Linked DNA regions of Homo sapiens: region 1 is linked to region 2. Evidence: fine-mapped expression QTL. A gene starts in region 2. The other region holds a variant in brackets. All regions are shown on one strand. Distances are between the middles of the regions. Region 1 overlaps PBRM1 (polybromo 1). Region 2 holds the start of PBRM1 (polybromo 1).

What was found.
Region 1: its variant is fine-mapped to the expression of PBRM1 in fibroblasts (GTEx, PIP 0.99).

The regions. Positions count from the first base shown.
Region 1 is chr3:52,544,741-52,547,663 of GRCh38, forward strand. PBRM1 (polybromo 1) reads right to left here. Exons shown (of 32, transcript NM_001405607.1): 32 at 627-2,923. Among named protein-coding and RNA genes, the nearest start is that of UQCC5, 9.6 kb to the left of the region's middle. The variant A/G (reference allele first, on the strand shown) is at 1,417.
Region 2 is chr3:52,684,254-52,687,176 of GRCh38, forward strand. It overlaps PBRM1 (polybromo 1), which reads right to left and starts at 1,660. Exons shown (of 32, transcript NM_001405607.1): 1 at 1,496-1,660. It overlaps GNL3 (G protein nucleolar 3), which reads left to right and starts at 1,779. Exons shown (of 15, transcript NM_014366.5): 1 at 1,779-1,852; 2 at 2,516-2,574. The coding sequence starts at 1,840. RefSeq lists silencers at 1,247-1,396, 1,467-1,616 and enhancers at 1,254-1,942, 1,937-2,006.

The DNA of each region.
Region 1 (2,923 bases), 140 kb before region 2:
AATATTTGTTTGCTCAGTGTTCAGATGGGATGTCTAGCTATACATCAATGATTGTTCAAAATATGCTCAGGGGCACAGATGCCGGTACTATCCTAAATTCAGGAGAACAGAACCACAGGGATTTGCAAAGTGATATTAGAGGAAAACAGTTGGTTGCTTTTACCAACACTTTCTATTAAAAGCATGGTCATGTTTTAAGAGTTTATAAAGATGTTAAAGACACCTGGGCCACCTGTTTCTTCTGGCCACAGACAAGCTATTTGAAGTGGGCTATACTGCTTACATGCTTTCCTCACTTTCCGCCCTCAGTAATTCTCCAATTTTAATTTCAACCTGCATTTCTGCCCATGCTGAGGACATGTAGGAATTCCTTGACTGCCAGCCTGAGGCGTGGCGTGGGGCACTTCAGTCTGCAGTCTGACTACATTTGGCTCTGTGTTAATGCAGCCCGAGCCCTGAACCAGAGGTCTGGACACTGACTTTCATCTCCATCTGTGGAGCTTTGTTCTCTTAAATTGGCAGTCACATACAACCTTGTCAGCATGAAATCAGGGCTTGCAGGAGTTAAATCTGCTTGAAACATCTGACACCACTTTAACAGAACAACCAAACCTGGTTAATCCAAATCACTTTGCAAACTCTGTATTTATTTGGATTAAAAAGCTTTAGATGAACAACAAAAAAAAGATACATACATGTTATAAGACTAGTTACCACGTAAACCTCAGATGATATGATACAGAAATTAGAATAAACCAAGTTTTAATCAGGTATGAAAACATTCAAGCTCAAAATCATCAACACCAATTTGGGGATTTTACAGAAATAGGTGCCCCTCTCAATTCTTCCTCATAGGAAGGGGAGAGTGGCTTAAAAAAAAAACAACAACCAAAACAGTTAAAGGCCTTTTAAATCAGTTGGCTGACAAACATACTGTTTTAAACCTACAGGTTCCCCTCAGTCCCCCCGTTTGCAATATAAACAATTCTTCTCCACAGGAACTTACATTTTGAAAACATTTAGGCCATTATACTTTCTAAGCCACATTACTACAGTTCCTAAAACTTATGAAAAAAAGGTGTATAGTTTACTTGTACTTTCTTGAGTCAATTTTTTTTTCTTTTTTGAAGATGGCTGACCTCAAATCTTATATCCTAAATATTAACGATATCCCCCAAGTTAATATACAGAAAAACATGATTCTAAAATAAATACACAGGCTTTTTAAAAAAAACTTAATTAGGGCCTGTCTAGTGATGCCCTGGGCCGGTGCTGCACTGCTTTAGGGAAGCCCCTGGCTGGATCTATGTTTCCTATAGCACCTCTAGGCACTGGGAAGGAGCCTGGAGGAGAGCTCTGGCTTCTAATGACCCACGTGGCCCCCAGTGAAAAATTTTTTTAGAGGCTCCCCAAAGA[A/G]GTCTCATCCAGACCTTAAGGGAAATAAAATGAATGCATGAAATAAATAAATAATTTAACCACAACTAAATTTCATGTTCTTTGGTGTAATTCAAGGATGTCTAGAAACAAAATAATCTGATTGCATTATACAGTCCATGATGATTCAATTGCCCAAATAGCCAGGAATTGAAGATTTATCTGACTCACTTTAACAATAAGGTACTGACACACTACTGCAATACATTTTTTTAAATTCAATATTATTTAAAATACTTGATGCAAATTCAAATCCAGTGGTTGACTAAAGGCAATTAAGTTAAAGGGCCTCCCATATTTAAAGTATCTAGATACAAGAGACTTTTTTCCATTCTACACTCTTTTGCCCTCATGATTTAATAAGTACAGTAATTAAACATCTGGGTACTGATTCATAGCAGATTAAAAGGAAAAAAGCATCCTCTGAGATTAACTCTCTCAGATTATAAACAGCAGTGGAAGCTCTACCACAATGGCAATCACCCAGTTACTATAAAGCAGGTTTCAAAAACATGCCGCCAAGTGAAACAATGTTCCTACTGTCTGCCATCCTATGCTGCCTTCAAATGTTTATTGTAGGGTCATATAAGAAAGACAGGGTCACCAAACCCAAGTGTTTGGGATCTGTAATGGTCTTTCTAGTAAGCGTTTTATTAAATTATGATTCCCTTCTCCTGTAATTCAAAAGCACAAGCTAAATTTAAAAAATATTTTAGAAAGTATTAAATTTCTGGTTGAGAATTATAACAACATTGAAACTTAAAAGAAAAAATACATCTGATAATAAGGAAATAAGGAATACTAAAACATACTTGTATATGAAGGCAATCAATCTACTTGTTCACAATTATGCTTCTTATACAGCTCATATCTAGTTCCATACTCTCTTACCCATGTTAGGTTAGGTGTTATGTTTAAAAATAAATCACCTCCATGCATACCTTAATGCTTTCTTCAAGACGAACTTCAATGTTTTTCAATGTAACAGGTTTAAAATTTTAAATCATCTGAAATTTATAGGCATAAATTGTGAATTCATTATAAATAGATCAAAATATCCTTAAACGTACCTGCCTAGATTAAACATACCTCAGGGTTGTGCACGTGTTCTGCAAAAATCACTGACACCATAGTCTAACTCACAGATGTCTAACTCAGCACAATTGAAAAAGTGCTTTTTCCCCTCCTGGTGTCCAGGAGGTACATTAGCTGCAGACAGATGCACAGCACTGATTACATATTTCTGTAGTGAGCCTCTGAGTTAATAGAGCAAATGTGCTGTGTCTATTAAACATCTAAAACCTAAATAACCACCTTTCAAAGAAAGCACTTCATCTGTAAGAAACAGCTTTTGCAGAAAGTGGCTTAAGATATTCAGGCACATGAAACAAACACAAGTATACTCCCCTCTCTAAGATGTAAACTAGGACAAACTTCACATTTCATTATCAATTTAAACTAATCTGTAAACTCTTGTGTGTGTGTGTTT
Region 2 (2,923 bases):
AGAGTTCAATGCCAAGTTTTAAAATGGCCTTGATTACAGTTACAAGTTCAAAAGTCTAACAATCAATAATTTATAGTGGACAGTTAAGAATACTTAATAATGTGCAACTGGGAGAATATCGACTTACTATAGACAAACAGTGTATTTCGACCGTTTATGAACTTTAGCCCTCTCCTATATTTCTAGTAATATTTAGCAATACAATACATGTTTAAAACAAAATCTTGGAAAACAGGACTCAAAGGAAAAAAAACACCTATAAACCTACTTCCAAGAAAAAAACCACTCTTAACGTTGTCATTCGGTTTTTGGTATTTATGCCTTAGTTACCTATTATTTTTTACCAAAATGTTAACAAACCACATATATTATTCTACAGCCTGTGTTTTAGTGAAGGTTCTTCCAAGTCAACATTCTTCCTCATGATGTTTGATGACTTGATAGTAATCTATCATATAGATACACCACAATTTACTTATCTTGGGAATTTTGGTAGGATATTAACATTTGAGGTATTTTGTACATTCCCAAAGCCAAAGAAAGCGGTCAAGGCCCTTCCATTCATCCACACATAAACTCTTTATTGTTTTAATTTGAAACACCTCTTCAAAACATATTTTCCAATCTTCCATTTTGGAGCTCAAAATCAAATATGGGCGACCTGTAAGTAATAAAGCAAAAATTATGCTACTCTTTTATGTGCATGAGTCCAATTTGCACTTTTTGGGGAAAAGCACATAGCCAAATGGAGAAAAAAATAATACCTAAAATTATTTGTCAAGAATCCTGTGTTGGAAAGTAAGTTAATTAAAACAATTCACCCCAACATACGCTTCTATAATTATTGTAAGAATTTCTATATCCACTATACCGTGTACTTATTTTTCAGGGCTTTTTCTATATTTTTGCAACTCTTTCTTCCCCTTTAAATTAAAACTTATTATAATAACAAAACTGTGCTTCCCCAAACCAAGAAATATACACAGTTCCCAAAATCCCGGATTCTTTGTGGTGTTGAGAAGCTGAAATATCTGGCCTCTACTATAAATACAAGTCCCATTGATTAAAATACCCGGAAAAAATACGGAAAGAAAATCACTAAGAGTTTGTGTCGAACCGTCAAGAAACCACAACAAAAAAAAGAGGCCCTGAGCAACGGAGGAAATGAAGGACTTTCCCGACCTGTCACTGGTATTGGGGACTGAGGGAAACGTTGACAGCTTTGAAGCTGCCCCGCGACGAGCGGGAAAGAGGAGCGCGGGGAGTTTCCGACCCGTAGTGCGCCTTTGTCCCTGCCGGCAGGTGCGACAAGGCTACTGGGCCCATCCGGAGGCCAGCCGCCGCGCCCCGCCCAACCCCGCGCGCCCGGCCCGACCCGCGCGTCCCCACGGCCGGGGCGGGGCTTCCGCCGCGGCTCCCGCCCGCCCGGGCCCACACAAAGGCCCGGCAGCTGACCAAGGGGGAGCGGCCCCACCCGCCCTGGGCCCGGCCTTACCCAGCCGCTCCGCCGCCTGCAGCCCCGGCCGCGGTCACCGACCGCCGCGCCCCGCCCCGTGGCCGCCACGGCTGCTGCTATTGCTCCTCCGGCCGCGGCCGCTGCCGTCGCTTCGGCACCCGCCGCCCTCACCTCCCTTACCCCTCCCGGTGCCGCCGCAAAACCAGTCCCGCGGCCGCCAAGCGATCCCTGCTCCGCGCGACACTGCGTGCCCGCGCACGCAGAGAGGCGGTGACGCACTTTACGGCGGCAGCGTAAGTGCGTGACGCTCGTCAGTGGCTTCAGTTCACACGTGGCGCCAGCGGAGGCAGGTTGATGTGTTTGTGCTTCCTTCTACAGCCAATATGAAAAGGCCTAGTAAGTGGGGTCGGGAGGCGGGCGTGGAGGGACCCACGTCTGGAAGTTGCTGCAGCCACCACGACGCTCTTCTACGGCTACGGCTTTGTCTCTGCTGGTATGGGGGTGGGAGCCTACGCGTAGGCCTTGGCCCTATTTCCTGGTAGAACCGAGAGTTGGAAGTCCCTACGGCGATCATGTTAACCGCGCGGGCTCATTCTGCGGAACGAAGCCGGGCAGAGGGTGGGGAAGACTAGGCTAGATTTTCGTAAGGAAGCAGCGTCTGAGCCAGGTTTGAGGCCCAATATTTTCTTTCCGTGGCCACGTGCAGACTGGCCCAGGTGAGAGCTGAGAATCGCCTCCCAGACTCAGTGTTCCTCTCCTGCCTTATGATTCGTGCTGTTTGACACGAAGTGGTTGTCGTTTTGTGTCTCATACGCTGTTGTGTATGATCCCATTCTAATATTGTGAGGGTAAGTGCAGGGAATTTTGACTCCATTCTGGATCTACTGAATTTAATTCTCTGGGATTTGAAAGTAGCACGTATGTTTGCATTAGGCATTTCGCATTAGACTTAACGTTAGGTTTGGTAGCCAATAACACAAGAAAAGGATATAACTCCATAGTGCGTTAACCCAGAACTAATCATTTGGGTTAACAGATTTGTGATGTGTTTCTTTGTAGAGTTAAAGAAAGCAAGTAAACGCATGACCTGCCATAAGCGGTATAAAATCCAAAAAAAGGTAAGTGTAGTGCTTGAGAGAGCTGTACCAAACACATTGCTAAACTGATTTTGCCCTGTTCCTTTGCGGGAAAGTCTGGGTTAATGTGATTTGGTTTTGGGAAATGGCATTGGATAGACTGACCATGGGCACAAGCTCTTAGGCATCAGGAGTGCAGCTGTGAGAAAGTGCAGTGATTTGGTGATAAGTCTCTAAATTTGTTCAGCATGTTAATCTCTGCATAGAGAGCCTTCTAGTTACAATTTCTTGCTGTTTTATACTTACATATGCATTACTTTGTAAGATTCCAATTAAAGCTCCATTTTCCTAGGACATTTTATAGGCATAACTAAATTGCAGCCAGATTGGT